Linked DNA regions of Homo sapiens: region 2 is linked to region 1. The links come from fine-mapping of genetic effects on gene expression. A gene starts in region 1. The other region holds a variant in brackets. All regions are shown on one strand. Distances are between the middles of the regions.

The links.
Region 2: its variant is fine-mapped to the expression of PIF1 in whole blood (TOPMed, PIP above 0.99).

Annotation. Positions count from the first base shown.
Region 1 is chr15:64,820,181-64,830,685 of GRCh38, reverse strand. It overlaps PIF1 (PIF1 5'-to-3' DNA helicase), which reads left to right and starts at 5,039. Exons shown (of 13, transcript NM_001286496.2): 1 at 5,039-5,117; 2 at 6,332-6,908; 3 at 8,076-8,208; 4 at 8,295-8,420; 5 at 9,166-9,319; 6 at 9,405-9,519; 7 at 9,598-9,704. The coding sequence starts at 6,351. RefSeq lists enhancers at 4,777-4,906, 6,096-6,763, 8,305-8,806 and a silencer at 6,465-6,954.
Region 2 is chr15:64,289,125-64,299,629 of GRCh38, reverse strand. The region is part of intron 2 of CSNK1G1 (casein kinase 1 gamma 1); the gene reads left to right. Among named protein-coding and RNA genes, the nearest start is that of CSNK1G1, 62 kb to the left of the region's middle. The variant G/A (reference allele first, on the strand shown) is at 6,088.

The sequences.
Region 1 (10,505 bases):
CCAGCCTGGGCGACAGAGCGAGACTGTCTCAAAAAAAGAAAAAAAAAAAGTTTGAAAGCCAAAACAAAAAAAAACATATTAAGAGAAAATCCATTGGGACATTCTGGTGCCTTCCCTTGAAGCAGTCTGGGGTATTGCACACAGAATCAGGGTAAGGGATTTGGCTTCCCCTGTGTGTAAGTGCGCTAGGCCCATTGTAAGCAGAGAGCAGTGGAAAGAGAGAACACAGGCTTTGGAAACAGACCTGGGTTCATAATCCCAGCTCTTTCATTTTCTCTCTATGTGGCTGTATTTGTTTCTTATTTCTATGGCTGCTATAACAAATTATCATACATTTAGTGGCTTAAAACAACAAAAATTTATCATCTTGTCATTCTGGAAGCCAGGAGTCTGAAATGTGTCCTACTGTACTAAAATCAAAAGCTGTTTTTCTTCTGGAGACTCCAGGAGATAATCCATTTCCCTGCCCTTTCCAGCTTCTAGAGAGCTCCTGCCTTCCTTGGTTTAGTCTGTGGCCCTTGCCTCCAACCTCAAAGCCAGCAGTAACATCTTCACGTCTCTCTTTCTCTCTCTCTCAACTCTACTTCCTTTGTCATATCTTCTCTGACTCCTGTTTCCTTCTTTCCCCTGTGATTACATTGGGCCACTCATATAATCCAGAATAACATCTTCATCTCAAAAAACTTAACCATGATCGGGTGTGGTGGCTAACGCCTGTAATCCCAGCACTTTGGGAGGCCGAGGTGGGCGGATCACTTGAGGTAGGAGTACAAGACCAGCCTGACCAACATGGAGAAACCCTGTCTCTACTAAAAATACAAAATTAGCCAGGTGTGGTGGCGCATGCCTGTAATCCCAGCTACTAGGGAGGCTGAGGCAGGAGAATTGCTTGAACCCGGGAGGTGGAGATTGTAGTGAGCTGAGATCATGCCATTGCATTCTAGCCTGGGCAAAAAGAGTGAAACTCCGCCTCAAAAAAAAAAAACAAACAACAAAAAAAACTTAATCATATCTGCAAAGTCCCTTTTGCCAATGTAAGATAATATTCACAAATTCTAGGGATTTGAACATGGACATTTTGGGGAAGGGGGTCATTATTCTGCCTACCATAATGACCTTGAAAACTTTTCTCTTTTTTTTTTTTTTTTTTTTTTTGAGACAGAGTCTCGCTCTGTCGCCCAGCCTGGAGTGCAGTGGTGCGATCCTGGCTCACTGCAACCTCTGTCTCCTGGGTTCAAGCGATTCTCCTGCCTCAGCCTCCCGAGTAGCTGGGATTACAGATGCCTGCAACCACACCCAGCTAATTTTTGTATTTTTAGTAAAGATGGGGTTTCACCACCTTGGCCAGGCTGGTCTTGAACTCCTGACCTCATGATCCACCTGCCTCAGCTTCCCAAAGTGGTGGGATTACAGACGTGAGCCACCACACCCAGCTGAAAATTTTTCTTAACCTACTCATTTACTCATACACAATGACGCATGCCACTGATATTCAATATATGTCAAGACAACACTGGAGAAGAAAAATATCTCTCAAGATTTCTTTCCAGCCAGGCATGGTGGCACCCTCCTGTAATCCCAGCACTCTGGCAGGCTGAGGCTGGCAGATCTCTTGAGACCAGGAGTTCGAGACCAGCCTGGGCAACATGGCGAGACCCTAGTCTCTATAAAATATACAAAAATTTGCTAGGCGTGGTGGTAGTCATCTGTAGTTCCAACTACTTGGGAGGCTGAGATGGGAGGATCACTTGAGCAGGAAGGTCAAGGCGGCAGTGAGTTATGATTGTGCCACTGTACTCCAGCCTGGGTGGCAGAGTGACAACCTGTCTCAAAAAAAAAAAAAAGATTTCTAACAGGTTTATGGAGATATAATTCACATACCATACAATTTAAGCATTCAAAGCATTCGATTCAATGGTTTTCAGTATAGTCACGGGGTTGTGCAACTATCACCAATCAATTTTAGACTATTTTTATCTTTCTCCCATTTTGAGAAAACAGAGGCTTGAGACATTATGGAAACCTGCTTAGGGTAGCATCCACTGGAAAGGCATTGCAGTGGCTGTTACTAGCTGAGATTCCAGTCCAGGTTATACCTTTCATGAAGCTAGGCCAGTCACCTTGAGGCAGAAGAACAGGGTCTGGAGGCAGGGAACCTAAGGCTGTTTCACGCCGACTTCCTAGAATTAAATTAAAAGGAAAACCCGGCTGGGCACAGTGGCTCACACCTGTAATCCCATCACTTTGGGAGGCCGAGGCGGGCAGATCACAATGTCAAGAGATTGAGACCATCCAGGCCAACATGGTGAAACCCCGTCTCTACTAAATATACAAAAATTAGCTGGGCATGGTGGCATGCACCTGTAGTCCTAGCTACTTGGGAGGCTAAGGCAGGAGAATCGCTTGAATGGGGGAGGCAGAGGTTGCAGTGAGCCAAGATAGCGCCTCTGCACTCCAGCCTGGCAACAAATAGAGACTCCACCTCAAAAAAATAAGAAGAAGAAGAAGAAGAAAAAAGAAAACCCTGGCCGGGCATGGTGGCTCACGCCTGTAATCTCAGCACTTTGGGAGGCCGAGGTAGGCGGATCACGAAGTCAGGAGTTCGAGACCAGCCTGGCCAATATGGTGAAACCCCATCTCTACCAAATATACAAAAATTAAATGGGCATGGTGGCACGCACCTGTAGTCCCAGCTACTTGGGAAGCTGAGGCAGAAGAATCGCTTGAACCCAGGAGGCAGAAGTTGCAGTGAGCCGAGATCCTGCCACTGCACTCCGGCCTGGGCAACAGAGCACAGAGCCAGACGCTGTCTCCCAAAAAAAAAAAAAAAAAAAAAAAAAAAAAAGGAAAACTCTAACTTTCCACTCCTAAGTAAGGACAAGAACAAAAGGACCAAAGGCTACTCCCTTTGACGTTTCCCGCATGGCAGATGGGAGATTGGCAGATGGGAGATTGGCTGTCTGCAACAAATCATAGGAGTGTGGGTCCAGTCTTCGTTTGCAACTTTGTAACTTCACTCCAGCCTCTGAATGGTGGCTGAATGGTTGCTGTCTGCAACCAATCAGACTGATTATCGCTACCACTTCAGTTACATGAAGTAAGCGTAAAGTTCCCAATGGGAAACTTCTAGGGGGTATTTGAACCCAAGAAAATTCTGTATCTCGGGTCCCCTCCCACACTGTGGAGTGTACTTTCGTTTTTGTTTTTTGTTGTTGTTGTTTGTTTTGAGACAAGTTCTCGTTCTGTCGCTCAGGCTGGAGTGCAGCGGCACGATCCAGGCTCACTGTATCTTCTGCCTCCTGGATTCAAGTGATTCTCATGCCTCAGCCTCCCAAGCAGCTGGGATTACAGATGTCCACGACGACACCCGGCAATTTTTGTATTTTTAGTAGAGACAGGGTTTCACCATGTTGGTCAGGGTGGTCTGGAACTGCTGACCTCAAGTGATCCCCCCACCTCGGCCTCCCAAAGTGCTGGGATTACAGGCGTGAGCCACCGCGCCTAGCCGTACTTTCGTTTTCAAAAAATTCCTGCTTTTGTTCTTTTGTTGCTTCATTCTTTCTTTGCTTTGATGGGCATTTTGTCCAATTCTTTGTTCAAAACGCCAAGAACCTGGACAACTTTCAGTCATCACCCTCTACCGCTAACAGACTGGGAGCAGTGTGGTGTAGTAGCTAAGCCCCATGGAGTGATTAAGCGAGCAGGTAATCTGGGTTCAATGTTTGGTTTTGCTCTCCATATCAGCTATGTGACCTTCAGTAAAATCTCTGGAAGCCTTGCTTTTTTCTCATTTGAAAAATAAGGTCCGGGCTCATGCCTGTAATCCTAGGACTTCGGGAGGCCACGGTGGGTGGATCGTTTGACCTCCGGAGTTCGAGACAAGCCTGGGAAACATGGTGACATCCCGTCTATACGAAAAAAAAATTATATATATATATGTGTGTGTATATATATATATGTGTGTGTATATATATATGTGTGTGTATATATATGTGTGTGTATATATGTGTGTGTGTGTGTATATATATATATATATATATATATATATATATATATATATAAATTAGCTGGGTGTGCATCTGTAGTTCCAGCTACCTGGGGGGCTGAGGCGGGAGGATCACCAGAGCCCAGGAGGCGGAGGTTGCAGTGAGCCACGATCGCGCCACGGCAGAGGTTGCAGTGAGCAGAGATTGTGCCACTGCACTCCACTACAGCCTGGGCGACAGAGTGAGCCCTAAGAAGGAAAAAGGAAAGGAAAGGGCAATTTAATCCATGGTAGTTATCATTATCTGTAAAATGAGGTAGCCAGACTCACCTGTAAGATCCTTTCCAGCTATGTAATTCCAAGCTTCAATGAGATAATAAAGATGATTAAAAGTAAATTCTTTCAGCATCCTGTGCAAGAAGAGGGATACAATTTCCCTGAAGACAGAGACTCTACTCGCTTCCGCTGTACCCTCTGGCACGTGGCACAGGTCTCAGAGTTTCTCACTCATGGGCCTCAGGTGGGTGAGAGAGCCAAAGCGTAAAGTCCCTTACAAAGGCAGAGAAGGATGTAGAGTTGGGGGCGGGGGAGGGATTGGGCAGGCCTTGGGGTGGTCTGCCCAGAACTGGACAATGGTACTGTGAGTGTAAACAGGGGTGTGAGAGTCCAAAGGCAGATCTTCCCCAAGGCTAAGCCCAGCCTCTGTGTGCGGGCTAGAGGGGAGAGGGAGTGTGCTGGAAGGATGGTTCTGAAAATAAATCTTCGGAGTCGCGTAGGGTTTTCAGACCCGACACCACGCGCCGCCGGGTGGCTGCCGCAGCGGCGGCCTCCTCCCACCACGCCCAGCCGTCCACTGGATTTGGTATGCTCAGCCACCACCATAAACCTCCTTCCTCTAGCAGGCAATTGGTACAGCCCAAGCTCCTGGAGTAGAGACGCAAAGAAAGACACGCCCATTGTTACGCCCCTACCTCTGAGTGGCTGGAGAATTTAAAGATCCAGTCGGTGATTGGGTGATTTTCTGCCTCTAGCATTTGAAAAATTTCTAGTTTCGGAGCTTAGCCACAGGCCGGCTACGATCTGCTTGTTCATCTGAGTGTCGGCACAAGTGAGTGTCTGCCCGAACCCAGAGGTGGGGAGCAAAGAGCCTGATTTATCTAGGGGTTTCCGGCGGGAGGGTGCAAACAAATGGGTCAGCCTGAGGGAGCACGGCTTCTAGGGTCCCAGGGTCCCCCGCGATTTCCCTAGCCGAATATTTTCCACCTCGTCCCCACCTTGGTGGTGGGAAGCGCGAGGGCATGGGAATCACACTGACTTTGACTACTAGCCGCTGTGGCTTATGAAGGGCAAGTGAGTTTCCCTCTCTTAGCCTGTTTCCACGTCTGTACACGGGGAAGAGTGAGACCTGCCCGCTGCATATAAGCCAGTGAATGTACCTACAAGGCAGAAGTCGCTTATTACACGGCAGCCCTCTTTGCATCTCCCCACGGGCGATTCTCCTGCTTCCTGGGGAGAGTACTCTGAGGATTCATGTGCTCGCCCTGGGTCTCGGGGAAGGAGGATTCTTTCTGCGCAGGGACCCCTGTTCTAGTGAGGTCCTTGCAGGACACCTGAGGCTCCCTAATCCTCGGTGCCCATCCGCCGCTCTGGAAATTGTTGTGTAGCACGGTGTGTGTGTATATGTGTGTGTGTGTGTGTGTGTATATATATAGAAATTGTATATATATTGTGTGTATATATATATAGAAATTGGATATATAGAAATGGAAATTGTGTAGCAGGGTGCGTGTGTGTATATATATATATACATATATATACACACACACACACACATATATATAATGTATGCATATGTATGTATTTATATGTATGTATTTTTTTTTTAATTAGAGGGTGTCGCTATGTTGCCCAGGATGGTCTCGAGTTCCTGGGCTCAAGCGATCTTCCTTCTTCAGCCTCCCAAAGTGCTGGAATTACAAGCGCCCGCCACCACGCCCGGCTAATTTTTGTATTTTTAGTAGAGACGAGGTTTCACCATGTTGGCCAGGCTGGTCTCAGAACTCCTAACTTCAGGTGATCCGCCCACTTTAGCCTCCCAAAGTGCTGGGATTAAAGCGCGAGCCACTGCGCCCGGCCCAGGGCATATTCTAAGGGTGGATTTTCGGTTAGCCCAAAGCCCTTTCTCCGTCTTTGTGACCTCTTTGTGTTACCAGTGACAGTCCTCGTGATCTTGTGTAGCCTTGACCCTGCTCCCTGTCACGTCCTTTATAGCACCCATTACGTCCCCTATAGCACCCATTACGTCTCATGAATCCTCATGACCCCTGTGCTCCGGTGTCTTCGCAGACCAGCAGAGGCGGTGACGATGCTCTCGGGCATAGAGGCGGCGGCAGGGGAATATGAGGACTCGGAGCTGCGGTGCCGCGTGGCTGTGGAGGAGCTGAGCCCGGGCGGGCAGCCGCGAAGGCGCCAGGCCCTGCGCACCGCGGAGCTGAGCCTGGGTCGCAACGAGCGCCGCGAGTTGATGCTGCGGCTGCAAGCGCCAGGGCCCGCGGGGCGGCCGCGCTGCTTTCCTCTGCGCGCCGCGCGCCTCTTCACGCGTTTCGCCGAGGCCGGGCGCAGCACCCTGCGGCTCCCCGCCCACGACACCCCCGGGGCCGGCGCAGTGCAGCTGCTGCTCTCGGACTGCCCCCCAGACCGCCTGCGCCGCTTCCTGCGCACATTGCGCCTCAAGCTGGCTGCGGCCCCGGGTCCCGGGCCGGCCTCCGCCCGAGCGCAGCTGCTGGGCCCGCGGCCCCGCGACTTCGTCACCATCAGCCCTGTGCAGCCCGAGGAGCGGCGGCTCAGGGCGGCCACCCGGGTTCCGGACACTACGCTGGTGAAGCGGCCTGTGGAGCCCCAGGCTGGGGCCGAGCCTAGCACAGTGAGGACGGGAAAGAAGGGACACCTTTAGGAGTAGATGTGCCATTCTTTAAGATGGCAGAGACCTAGAGACCCAAGTTTGAGGGGAAGCCGGTGTGGGTATTTGATACCCATCTGACATCTCAGTATGACAGGGGTGTGGGAATTGTGCCTGTGGTTGTTATAGTGTAATCCCTGAGATGGAGTAAATCAAAACAGGAAATGGGACCTGGCTACATTAAAAGAGAAAGCAGAGGCCGGGCATGGTGGCTCACGCCTGTAATCCCAGCACTTTGGGAGGCTAAAGTGGATCACCTGAGGTTAGGAGTTCTGAGGCCAGCCTGGCCAACATGGTGAAACCTCGTATCTACTAAAAATACAAAAATTAGCCAGGCGCGGTGGCGGGCGCCTGTAATCCCAGCTACTTGGGAGGCTGAGGCAGGAGAATAGCTTGAACCCGGGAGGCAGAGGTTGCAGTGAGCCTAGATCGCGCCACTGCACTCCAGCCTGGGTGACAGAGCGAGACTCTTCCTCAAAAAAAAAAAAGAGAGAGCGAGAGAGAAAGAAGAGAAGGAGGCTTGCAAAGGACTACAGAAAGAATGCTGGGAGAGGGTAATAGGCCCAGAGTAGAGGAGCTTATGGAGAGAATGAAGTGGTCATTCGTGTCCTGGGCAGCCAACAGTTGAAGCAGATGAGGGGAAAAAAGTCTGGTGGGTTTGACAATTTTCATGGGCTGGGGCAGGTGAATCATAGCCCACCAGGGTTTGACACTAAGCTGGCGAGAGGACAGAGACAGGATAAGAAGGGGCCCTGGCTAGACAGGGTTTTGCTTGGGTATTTTGAGGTGAGAAACAGGTTTGTGATAGGAAGAGAAACTTAGGTGACAGGAAGGAAACTTTAGTGACAGGATGAGAAGGGTTAGGGAACCCAGGGGAAGGAGCTAAGGGAGGGTGTAGACCACACTGGTGTGGTCTGCCCAGGACTGGACAATGGGGGTCTTCAGGGCACAAGGAGAGATCGGGACCCCAATAGTTGCTGGCAAGCTCTCCAGGCAAACCCAAGAGCTCCATGGAATGAAGGCAGTAGAGGACAAAGGGTTACCAGGCCCAGCATTGCACATGGGCCAAGAAGGGTGGGGGCAATGCCTAGCGGGTGGGAGGATGCTCTGAGATAGCTCTGTTCCCCCCAGGAAGCCCCAAGGTGGCCCCTGCCTGTGAAGAGGCTGAGCTTGCCCTCCACCAAGCCACAGCTTTCTGAGGAACAGGCTGCTGTGCTGAGGGCCGTCCTGAAAGGCCAGAGCATCTTCTTCACTGGGAGTGCAGGTAGTGGGGGCAGAGAGGAGGTAGGGGGACAGTGGTGGGGTGGGATAGAGGAACAGGGAGACCTGTCTAACTTTGCCCCTGTCCAGGAACAGGGAAGTCATATCTGCTAAAGCGAATCCTGGGCTCACTGCCCCCCACAGGCACTGTGGCCACTGCCAGCACTGGGGTGGCAGCCTGCCACATCGGGGGCACCACCCTCCATGCCTTTGCAGGTAAGTAGGAACCCCTAGGGCTTGAGCTAAGAGCAAGCCCAGCTTCTGGGAAGGGAGAGAGGGGAGGTCTGCATAAAGAGGGAGTTTTGGGGGCTGGGCGCCGTGGCTCACTCTTGTAATCCCAAAACTTTAGGAGGCCAAGGTGGGAGGATCGCTTGAGCCCAGGAGTTTGAGACCAGCCTGGCCAACACAGTAAACCCTGTCTCCACAAAATTTAAAAATTAGCGGCCGGGCGCAGTGGCTCACGCCTGTAATCCCAGCACTTTGGGAGGCCGAGGCAGGCGGATCACAAGGTCAGGAGATCAAGACTATCCTGGCTAACACGGTAAAACCCTGTCTCTACTAAAAATACAAAAAAATTAGCCAGGCATGGTGGCAAGCGCCTGTAGTCCCAGCTACTCTGGAGGCTGAGGCAGGAGAATGGCGTGAACCCAGGAGGCAGAGCTTGCAGTGAGCCGAGATCACGCCACTGCACTTGAGCCTGGGCGACACAGCGAGACTCCATCTCAAAACAAAACAAAACAAAATTAGCTGAGCATGGTGGTGTGTGCCTGTAGTCCCAGCTACTATGGAGGTTGAGGTGGGAGGATCGCTTGAGCCCATGAGGCCCAGGTTACAGTGAGCCAAGATCGTGCCACTGCACTTCAGCCTGGGTGACAGAAAGAGACCTTCTCTCAAAAAAAAAAAAAAAAAAAAAAAAGAGAGGCTTTGGGTATTAGCCCAGGCTGAATAGTGTCACTCACAGGCATCGGCTCAGGCCAGGCTCCTCTAGCCCAGTGTGTGGCCCTGGCCCAAAGGCCAGGCGTGCGGCAGGGCTGGCTGAACTGCCAGCGGTTGGTCATTGACGAGATCTCAATGGTGGAGGCAGACCTGTTTGACAAACTGGAGGCCGTGGCCAGGTCAGTATGTTCAGAGGGCAGCAGGTGAGAACTGGGACCTGGTGGTCTTCTGTGTGCCCCTAAAGCACCCCACGCTCCTCTCCAGAGCTGTCCGGCAGCAGAACAAGCCATTCGGAGGGATCCAGCTCATCATCTGTGGGGACTTTCTGCAGCTGCCACCTGTGACCAAGGGCTCCCAGCCCCCACGGTTCTGCTTCCAGGTATTACTCACCTCCTAGCTCTGCTCTCCTTGGGGGTCTGCTCTGCTCCTTGACCCACCCCCACCCTGCCCCCACCAGTCCAAGAGCTGGAAGAGGTGTGTGCCAGTGACCCTGGAGCTGACCAAGGTGTGGAGGCAGGCAGACCAGACCTTCATCTCTCTACTGCAGGCCGTGAGGCTAGGCAGGTGAGCTCTGCTGGTTGGGGAAGGGGCTATGGGATGAGGATCCAGGCATGGGCCACAGTGGAACACAGAGAGGGACTCACAGAAGGGGTAGAATTGTTACCCTCAGGAGCAAGCACTCCATGCAGGAAGAGGAGCCTTGGGCAGGGCACTGGACAACTCAGGATGGATTGTAGTCAAGACCATCATGGCACCATAGGAGATGGTTGCTCTGAGTGCTGGGACCTAGCCTCCCTCAGGGTTGGGTCTCCATCACCTAGCACAAGGCCTGGCATAAAGTAGGTGTCAGGGGCTGGGCACGGTGGCTCACGCCTGTAATCCCAGCACTTTGGGAGGCTGAGGCAGGCGGATCACAAGATCAGGAGTTTGAGACCAGCCTGGCCAACCTGGTGAAACCCAGTCTCTACTAAAAATACAAAAATTAGCTGGGCGTGGTGGCACGCACCTGTAGTCCCAGCTACTTGGGAGGCTGAGGCAGGAGAATCGCTTAAACCAGGGAGGCAGAGGTTGCAGTGAGCCAAGATCATGCCACTGCACTGCAGCCTGGTGACAGAGCGAGACTCCGTCTCAAAAAACAAAAACAAAACAGAAACATAAGCTAGATTTTTCACCCAAGGTAGGAGGCAAGTGGATAGAAGATTGTACCCTGGAGGCCAATCTGGGTCCTGCAAATCTCCAGCCTGTGCTCACTCATCATAGCCAACTTCCTCAGGAGTATTATGGAGTGCGAGGGTGGCCAGCTCTGACCTGGGGCAGCACAGGGAAGGGTGCCCACATGTGATCAAAGCTCAGTACCCTGCCCCT
Region 2 (10,505 bases), 530 kb after region 1:
TGGGTATTTATATATATATATAAAATTTTTTTTTTTTTGAGATGGAGTCTTACTCTGTCGCCCAGGCTGGAGTGCAGTGGCGCGATCTCGGCTCACTGCAAGCTCTGCCTCCCGGGTTCATGCCATTCTCCTGCCTCAACCTCCCAAGTAGCTGGGACTACAGGCATCCGCCACCACGCCCGGCTAATTTTGTTTTTGTATTTTTAGTAGAGACAGGGTTTCACCATGTTAGCCAGGATGGTCTTGATCCTCTGACTTCGTGATCCGCCCGCCTCGGCCTCCCAAAGTGCTGGGATTACAGGCGTGAGCCACCGCGCCCGGCCATTTATATACTTTTTAATGGCTCTCCCTTGATGAGTGGGATAGAGAAAATAAAAGGCCGTATAAATATATGAAGTTGGAAATTAGCCTGGAGAATGTGGAAAGGTCATCTTTTAGGCTAAAGTGTTTTCTTTTCCTTCATAGCTCTTGAGACTGTGGATTAATGTGAAGACTCATTGTAAGAAACTTTGGCCCTTTGGGGGGAGTGGTGGGAGGGTGGGAACATAATGTAATTATGTTTGTTACCTCTGCTACTTCTTTTTCTTTTTGAGATGGAGTGTTGCTCTGTCACCCAGGCTGGAGTGCAGTGGTGCGATCTCAGCTCACTGCAACCTCCTCTTCCCAGGTTCAAGTGATTCTTGTGCCTCATCCTCCAGAGTAGCTGGGACTTACAGGCATGTGCCACCATGCCCAGCTTATTTTTTTTTTTTTTGTATTTTTGTGGAGACGGGCTCTTGCCATATTGGCCAGGCTGGTCTTGACCTCCTGGCCTCAAGTGATCCACCCGCCTCGGCCTCCCAAAGTGCTGGGATTACAGGCTGAGCCACTACGCCTGACCACCTCTGCTACTTGTGATGGTCCTGCATAGAGAACATGGACAAAATCTTATCTCTGATCCCCCATAGAGAGCCTTGGAGAAACATCACTATACTAGCCAGAGACCATTTGAATTTAAGAATGATGAGAATGGATTTATTTTTACTGTTAGAAGGCTGACAACCTGGAAATTCAGGACTTAATTAGGATAATGAAAGGATCTTTATATTTAGAATTGTGTTCGGGTTACCAAAGCCAGCAGATGCTACTTACAATACGAGTAAGATGTGTAATTACTGCTTTACTTTCTAGCAATCACAGAGTTGCTTTAACGAATAGTTCTGTGAATATTTCTTTATGTCATAAATTGACTGTAACATCACAGTACTACTTGGATGGATTAAATAATTATGACATAAACATCCATAAAATGATTGCTAAGAGGCAGTTTCTAAAGCATCTAAATCTTTGAATTCTCAAAACATCAGACAATTGTTTCATTTCTGTGAAAGTGAAGAAAAACCTTGGTGAATTAAAAGTGGAAATCTGTTTAATCACTGAAGTCTAGATTTGTATTATAAGTTTACGTGGGAAGGGAAAAATTCATTCAGTTAAAAGCATACATTTATAGCCCATATATATTTTCAGAGTAGTATTGTGTTTTGTTTCCTCTTTGAATCTGAGATAATTTTGATGTTTCTCATTTGGACTTGCCTGTAGTCAGAAGAACTTGTCTTTCTTTTCATGTGCTTTTACTCTTCTCTGCTTATCAAGTTTTCATTAGCCCTGGGACCATACTGTTATGGCCTTGTATCTAGAAAAGATACTTTCAGAATTATCTGGCATCTTCCTGACAATAGAGTGGGCTGCATACCCCATTCCGTCATTTTCTTGTTCTAATATTAGCGAGGAGAAGATTGTAAACTACAAAATTCCAAAGTCAAGGCAGGTGCAGTCAGCCTACATCATGGCTACCACCTACAAAGCTCTGCTTCTCTAAACTAATTTCCTTTCCTAGACACACAGTCTGTCAAACAGCCAAGTGCATTTCTTCTTATTCTTTTTTTTTTTTTGAGAGACAGGGTCTTGCTCTGTTACCCGCCCTGGAGTGCAGTGGCATGATCATAGCTCACGCAGCCTCCAACTCCCAGGCTCAAGCGATCCTCCTACTTCAGCCTCCTTAATAGCTAGTGCATAAGAACACGCCCAGCTAATTTTTTTATTTTTAAATGTTTTGTAGAGATGATGTTTTGCAGGCTGGTCTTGAACTCCTGGCCTCAAGCGATTCTCCTGCCTTGGCCTTCCAAAGTGTTGGGATTACAGATGTGAGCCGCCACACCTGACCAACCGTGTGCATTTCTGCTTCAGAGCCTTTACACTTGCAATTCCTTCTGCTTGCAGAATTATTTCCCTAAAATTTTGCGTAGTGGGTTGTTTCTCATCCTTTAGGCCTCAGCTTATGTCTTACCTTCTCAGAGAAACATTCTATCACTTGTTCCTCATTCTCATTTAAAATAGCACGTTTCTTCTCTAGCACATCCTGTCTCGTCAAACTGCTTTATTTTATTCATTGCATTCATCACTATCTGAAATGACCATATGTATGTTTCCCTATTAATTGCCTCTCCTTACTTGAATATAAGCCCTTTAAAGGGCAGGGATTCTTTCTGTATTGTTTACTGTTATTTATGAGATGGAAGGATAAAAAGCTGATGAATAGGAAGAGGGGGGAAAATAAAGCATACTTTCTTTGGGCTCCAGGTTTATGTGGGGGTGGTGGTAGATAGTAGACCTATCGGTTCCAAACAGCAAAAAAAAAAAAAAAAAAAAAAAAGTAACGATAGTGCATTTTGGTTCTCTGCAAATGTTTCCACCCCATTATACAGTTTTCTTTTTTTTTTTTCTTTTAGATGGAGTTTTGCTCTTTTTGCCCAGGCTAGAGTGCAGTGGCACAATCTCGGCTCACTGCAACCTCTGCCTCCCGGGTTCAAGTGATTCTCCTGTCTCAGCCTCCCAAGTAGCTGGGATTACAGGCGTGTGCCTCCATGCCCGGCTAATTTTTTATTTTTAGTTGAGGCAGGGTTTCACCATGTTGGCCAGGCTGGTCTCGAACTCCTGACCTCAGGTGATCTGCCCACGTCAGCCTCCCAAAGTGCTAGGATTACAGGCGTGAGCCACTGCACCCAGCCTTCATCATACATTTAACAACTATTTCTTGAATATTTACTGATACTAGACTCTGGGAAGGATAGAAATAAGAAGATATAGTTTTTGTCTCTACAAATACCACAGTCTAGTGGTAGACAGAGAAAAACAAATTGCAATACAAAGTGATAATATAGCAGATTGGGGGCTGGGTGTAGTGGCTTATGCCTGTAATCCCAGCACTTTGGGAGGCCAAGGCAGGCAGATGACTTGAGCTTAGGATTTCAATACCAACATGAGCAACGTGGCAAAACCTCGTCTCTACAAAAAATACAAAAATTAGCTGGGTGTGGTGGTATGCACCTGTAGTCCTAGCTACTTGGGAGGCTGAGATGGGAGGATGGCTTGAGCCTGGGAGCCTGATGCTACCATGAGCCAAGATCACATCACTGCACTCCAGCCTGGGCGACAGAGTGAGACCGTGTCTCAAACAAACAAAAAACCAGATTGTATGGAAACTACATTGGCAGAGAAGGTTAATAAAGGCTTCAAAGAGGAGGTATGATTTGATGATAGGACAGGATTTCTGCTGGTAGACATAAGGAAGAAGAGCTTGTGCAGGATACACAATCACTAGATACTGTGCAAGTGCCCAGCATATCACAGCAGCATTTAGTTATACATGACTGGGTCATAGGATGTGAAGTGAAAGAAAAGTAATAGAATGAAGCTTTTAGGTAAGTTGGGACGAAATTGTGAAGTGTTTGCATATATTAAAGCATTTGGACTTTATCCTGTAGGCAATGGGGTCGAATCATCAGGAGTTTTACAACAGAGTGACATAATCTAGTTTATATTCCAGAAAGAGAATTCGGGTTGTATTGTAAGATTAGATCAAATAGGAAAGAAGTTGACATCTTGTAGATTTTGCTCTAATTGTAATACTTATCATGTTGTACTTTATTCTTCCATTTCTCTCTCCCAAGATAGGTGTAAGGGTATTACTTTGCTTTTTAGTCCTCATATTCTAATTCCTTTCACTGTGTGTGGTATGTAATGGGTACTCAAGAAAGGCTGAATTGTCCAGGTCAGAAGTAGCAGGGCCTTTGGTCTTAGCTCTGAAAATGGAAGTGAGATGGAGAGAGGACAGGGTAAATTAGAAATTTTAGACATAGACTTTAGGCAGGATTTAGTCACTAATTATTTGATGGGAAGAAGTCAAAGATGACTAAATGTGCCAGCTTGAAGAGACCTTATAAATGAGGAAGATGTAAACCCATTTATGCCGGAAGCTGCAAATTTTTTTGTGAAAAATCAGACCTTGGTGATGACCTCGAGCAGTGTATATAAATAACTCCCACCAGCCTAGCGTTCCAATAATGGAACACTAGGCATAAATGAGTTAATTGAGATAGTAAATATAGGACTAGGGAGAGTGGTTGGGAAGGCAGGTAAGATAGAGTTTGTGAATATTTGAGGACTGGGTGACACATATGCAGAAATGCATATCTGAGACTTAGAAAGTTAGGCTTGAGATAGGGATTAAGAAATCACACCAAACTAGAGATGGGGTTTCACCATGTTAGCCAGGATGGTCTTGATCTCCTGACCTTGTGATCTACCCACCTCGGCCTCCCAAAGTGCTGGGATTATAGGCATGAGCCACCGCGCCTGGCCACCCCCCGACCCTCTTTTTTTTTTTTTTTTTTTTTTTGAGACGAAGTTTCACTCTTGTTGTCCAGGCTGGAGTGCAATGGCACGATCTTGGCTCACTGCAACCTCCGCCTCCTGAGTTCAAGCGATTCTCCTGCCTCAGTCTCCCAAGTAGCTGGGATTACAGGCACCTGCCACAACGCCCAGCTAATTTTTTGTATTTTTTGTAGAGACGGGGTTTCACCATGTTGGCCAGGCTGGTCTTGAACTCCTGACCTCAGGTGATCTGCCTGCCTTGGCCTCCCAAAGTGCTGGGATTACAGGTATGAGCCACCACTCCTGGCCCTTCCCTATCTTTTTAAAATGAGCCATGTGTATTTTGTAATCAGCAAAAAGTAGTAATCAAAGCAAAACAATTTCATTAAAGCAAATTTTTTTAAAAAGAAAATACACTTATTGCTTAAAATTTTTTTTTAATTCTACTTTAGAGGTGTCTGTGGAGATAACCAGTAATGATGGTTTAATTTTCTACAGCTCAAAAATGTGTATTAGGACATATTTTAGAAATGCAATCAAATTGTGCTCTAAGCTTCCTCTTATGGCTGGGCGTGGTGCCTCATGCCTGTAATCCCAGCCCTTTGAGAGGCCGAGGTGGGCGGATCACCTGAGATCAGGAGTTTGAGACCAGCCTGGCCAACATGGTGAAACCCCATCTCTACTAAAAATACAAAGAATTAGCCGGGCTTGGTGACGGACGCCTGTAATCCCAGCTACTCGGAAGGCTGAGACAGGAGAACCAGTTGAACCTGGGAGATGGAGGTTGCAGTGAGCTGAGACTGCACCACTGCACTCCAGCCTGGGAGACAGAGTGAGACTCCGTCTCAAAAAAAGAAGCCTCTTTTTATTGCTTAATAGAGCATGAACATCTTGTTTCAACTTAAATATATCTCATCAATTTTAAATATTTCTATAGTATTCAATTTAGCCATTATCAATATACACAAAAATTATTTTGTATTTTAATACTATAATTAATACAGTACTCCTGCAGTCCCCAACTTTTTTGGCACCAGGGACCCATTTCATGGAAGACAATTTTTCCATGTACCAGGGGTGGAGGATGGTTTCAGGATGAAACTGTTCCACCCTAGATCATCAAGTATTAGATGTAGGCTAGATCCCTCACATGCACAGTAATAGGGTTTGCACTCCTGTGAGAATCTAATGCTGCCACTGATCTTTCAGGTGGCACTCAGGTGGTAATGCTTGCTTACCCACTGCTCACCTCCTGCCATGCAGCCTGGTTCCTAACAGGGCCACGGACTGGCACTGGTCTACTCGATCTCCTTGTATTTAAAGTTGGTTTAATTTCTTAGACTACATCCTGGAAGCGTACTTTTTGTGTCAAAGGATATGTACGTTTGCAATTTT[G/A]TTACACATTGTCAGTTTGCCCTCCAAAAAGATGTTTCACTTTGTGTGTATGTGTGTCCTTGTGCTTATTTCCTCCAGTGCTTCAGAAATCTTAAACAATATCAAGAATCTTTTCATCTATGACAGTCTGATAGGGGAAAATGGTATTACTTAAATGTGTATGTGTTCATAGGTGAAGTTAAACATACTTACACATATTTGCTTATTTTTTTAAAGAGTATTTCTATGTGGCCTTTGCTCATTTTCAATGGAAAGATTATTTCTGTGGAGTCTTTTGTGTACTGCCTCAATGAAAGGAGAATTATGAAGATTTAAGACAGAAGGGAAAATTGATGGATAGTGATTGTGTAGGTAGGAGGACATGATGGGATGAAAACAGATTTTATAGATTGATACTAACTGAAAATCATGGGGAATCTTGTGAGAACTTTCTCATTTTTAAAGTTTTGAGCCTTCTGCTGAATCAGGCCTGGAAAGAATCATGTAAACATTAAAATAAAATTATTTTCCTCTAGAGTTAAGAAAATATACATCCTCAATGTACAAATAATTGCTGATGTTTTTCTTAGTTGCAAGAATAAGTAGATAGATGATATTTATTTATTTATTTATTTATGAGATGGAGTCTCGCTCTATCACCAGGCTGGAGTGCAGTGGCGCGATATTGGCTCACTGCAACCTCTGCCTCCCAGGTTCAAGCAGTTCTCCTGCCTCAGCCTCCTGAGTAGCTGGGATTACAGGTGCCCGCCACCATGCCCGGCTAATTATTTTTTGTATTTTTTTAATAGAGACAGGTTTCACCAAGTTGGCCAGGATGGTCTCTATCTCCTAAGCTAGTGATCCAGCCACCTCGGCCTCCCAAAGTGCTAGGATTACAGGCATGGGCCACTGCACCTGGCTGGTGATATTTCTTTCACATCCACATAGGGGTGCACGTATGTTTATGGGAGACCTGTTAGACTAGAGAGACAGGCGTATGATTTTAATAATATTCATATTATCCTTTTGAAGTAGGATAGAGTGAGAGGATGTTTTTACTTGCATACAACAAAATGGAGGCACAACAAATTAACCTTTTTGATCTTTTCCATCTTTGGTGTCTGATGAAATATGCAAAAATGCATTAACACAGGATACTTCTGACAAAGGTAAATAAATTGGCTAAGGGTAGCAGCTTGTTCTGTGACACTCCTGCATGGCTTCTAAAGTAAGACACTTATTTCTGTGATTGATGTAGGATTTATATGACAGGCTCTGCATATTGTTCTTTCCTTGTCTGAATTACTGAACTGTCACTTGTGAACTTAAATTGGAACTTTTTTTTTTTTTTTTTGTGACGGAGTCTCGCTCTGTCGCCCAGGCTGGAGTGCAGTGGCTCGATCTTGGCTGACTGCAAGCTCCGCCTCCCAGGTTCACACCATTCTCCTGCCTAAGCCTCCCGACTAGCTGGGACTACAGGCGCCTGCCACCACGCCTGACTAATTTTTTTTTTTAATATGTGTATTTTTAGTAGAGACGAGGTTTCACCATGTTAGCCAGGATGGCCTCGATCTCCTGACCTTGTGATCCACCTGCCTCGGCCTCCCAAAGTGCTGGGATTACAGGCGTGAGCCACTGCGCCCTGCTTTTATTGGAACTTTTAACTTCTGCTACTAGCTTTTCTTTTTTTGGCAGTTGTAATTATTAACAATTTACAGATGAATACTATCTAAAGCAGTTCATTTCATATTATATCCCACAGTCTTAGATCCATTATTTTCCACTCCAAGTCAATGAGAAAAGAAAAGTGAGCAGGCAGAACTCTCCATGTTATCTGTTTTATACATTTTATACATTTGAGTTTTCAATAAGATTTTGTTTGAAAGGTATGATTCTGCTGCTTTAAACATTTTTGAAAATCATCTGAGAGAATGCAGGCTTAAGATGAAACATAATTTTATTTTATTTTATTTTTGAGATGGAGTTTCACTCTTGTTGCCCAGGCTGGAGTGCAATGGCATGATCTTAGCTCACCGCAACCTCCACCTCCTGGATTCAAGCAATTCTCCTGCCTCAGGCTTCTGAGTAGCTGGGATTACAGGTGCCCACCACCACACCCAGCTAATTTTTTGTATTTTTAGTAAAGATGGGGTTTCACCATGTTGGCCAGGCTGGTCTCAAACTCCTGACTTCAAGTGATCTGCCCGCTTCAGCCTCCCAAAGTGCTGGGATTACAGGCGTGAGCCACTGCACCCAGACCAAAATGTAACATAATTTAAAGGTATTTCTTCTCTAGTTCAAAATGAAGCCATTTTAAAATCAAATTTTTGCTTTTAAGTTAATAGTTTCTTAGAAAATCATGGTATTTTAAACAAATGAAAGTGTATCAGCCAAACACCTAATTAACCAGAAACATTGATATATATTTGTAACCTTGTTAAAGTTTTCTTATAAATTTACAAATTTTTAGGTTCTGTGGATGGAACAAACTAAAACAAGTTTTAGAAGTCATGTCATTCTTCTGCTTAAGTGATTAAAAATAGGAGTCTTGGCTGGGCATGGTGGCTCACGCCTGTAATCTCAGCACTTTGGGAGGCCAAAGCAGACAGATCATCTGAGGTCAGGAGTTGGAGACCAGCCTGGCCAACGTGGTGAAACCCCGTCTCTACTGAAAATACAAAAATTAGCCAGGCATGGTTGTGGGCGCCTGTAATCCCAGCTACTCGGGAGGCTGAGGTGAGCTGAGATCGTGCCATTGCACTCTAGTCTGGGTGACAAGAACGAGACTCTGTCTCAAAAAAAATAAATTAATTGAATTAAATTAAATTAAATTATAACTTTAGATAAAATGCATTCTAATTTTTTTGTTGTTATGTGGATATATTCCCTAATGGTGAAGTCTGGGTTTTTTTGTGTAACTATCACCTGAATAATATGCATTGTATCCATTAAATAATTTCTCATTTCTCACCTCTTTCCCACCCTTTTAAGTCTTCAGTGTCTATTATTCCACACTCTGTGTCCATGTGTACACATTATTTAGCTCCCACTTATAAGTGAAAGCATGCATTTTTTGATTTTCTGTTTCTGAGTTGTTTCACTTAAGTTAATGGCCTGCAGTTCCATCCATGTTGCTGCAAAAAACGTGAAATTTTATTATTTTTTTAAGGGCGGAATAGTAGTTCATTGCCTGTCTGCCTGTGTGTGTGTGTGTGTGTAAAATGTGTGTGTGTATGTGTATGTGTATATATATATATAAAATCATCCATGAGGGACACTTGTTTCCGTATTTTTGGCGATAAACATAACATATGCAGGTGTCTTTTTGATGTAATGATTTCTTTTCCTTTGGGTAGGTACCCATTAGTGAGATTGCAGGATCAAATGGTGGTTTTAGTTTTTTGGGAAACTTCCATACTGTTTTTCATAAAGGGTGCACTCATTTACATTCCCGCCAACAGTGTATAAGTGTTCTCTCTTCTCTGCACCCATGCCAACATCTTTTATTTTTTGACTTTTTAATAATAGCCATTCTTAGGAGTGTAAAAGGCTTATTGGAAAAACCAACAAAACAAAAAATAATAATAATAGCCATTCTGACTGGTATAAAATTATATCTTATTGTGGTTTTAATTTGCATCTCTCTGCTGATTAGTTCTTTTGAGCGTTTTTTCATATGCTTCTTGGTCATTTGTATGTCATTCAAATGTCATTCAAATGAAGTCATTTGTATGTCTTCATTTGAAAAATGTTCATGTCCTTTGCTCACTTTTAGATGAGGTTATACGGTTTTTTGTTATTGTTTGTTTAAGTTCCTTGTAAATTCTTACAATTAGTATTGTAAATACTATAATATCCTTGTAATTGGATATTAGTTTCCTGTTAGATGCAGTTTGCAAATATTTTCTCCCATTCAGCAGGTTGTCTGTTCACTCTCTTATTTCTTTTGCTGTGCAGATGCTTTTTAGTTTAATTAAGTCCCATTTGTCTATTTTGTTTTTGTTGTGCATTTTAATTTTCTTGGAAGAATATCAAATGTATATGAGATTCTTGTTTGTAGTAGTATCGTAGTTTAAATTTCTTTTGGAATTACACCCTAGTTTAACTTAAGCACAATTTGTTAAGGTTAAGCAGTTTTAACAGATCTTGGAGAAGAATTATTTCTGTCAATAGCATAATCCATCAAAATAAAGTAGAAATGAAGAGTTCTAACCACATTAGGTGACACACAGTCTGCATTGCATTAATATGGTAATTTTAGAAGTGTCACAGATACAATACTTGCAAGATTATGCATTGACATCTTGAATGGTTAACCAGAAGAATGTAATGGTAAAATTTCCAGGCTTGCCAAACAATTCCGGAATTTTTTTTTTTTTTTTTTGATACAGAGTCTCACTTGTTCGCCCAGGCTGGAGTGCAGTGTTGCAATCTCGGCT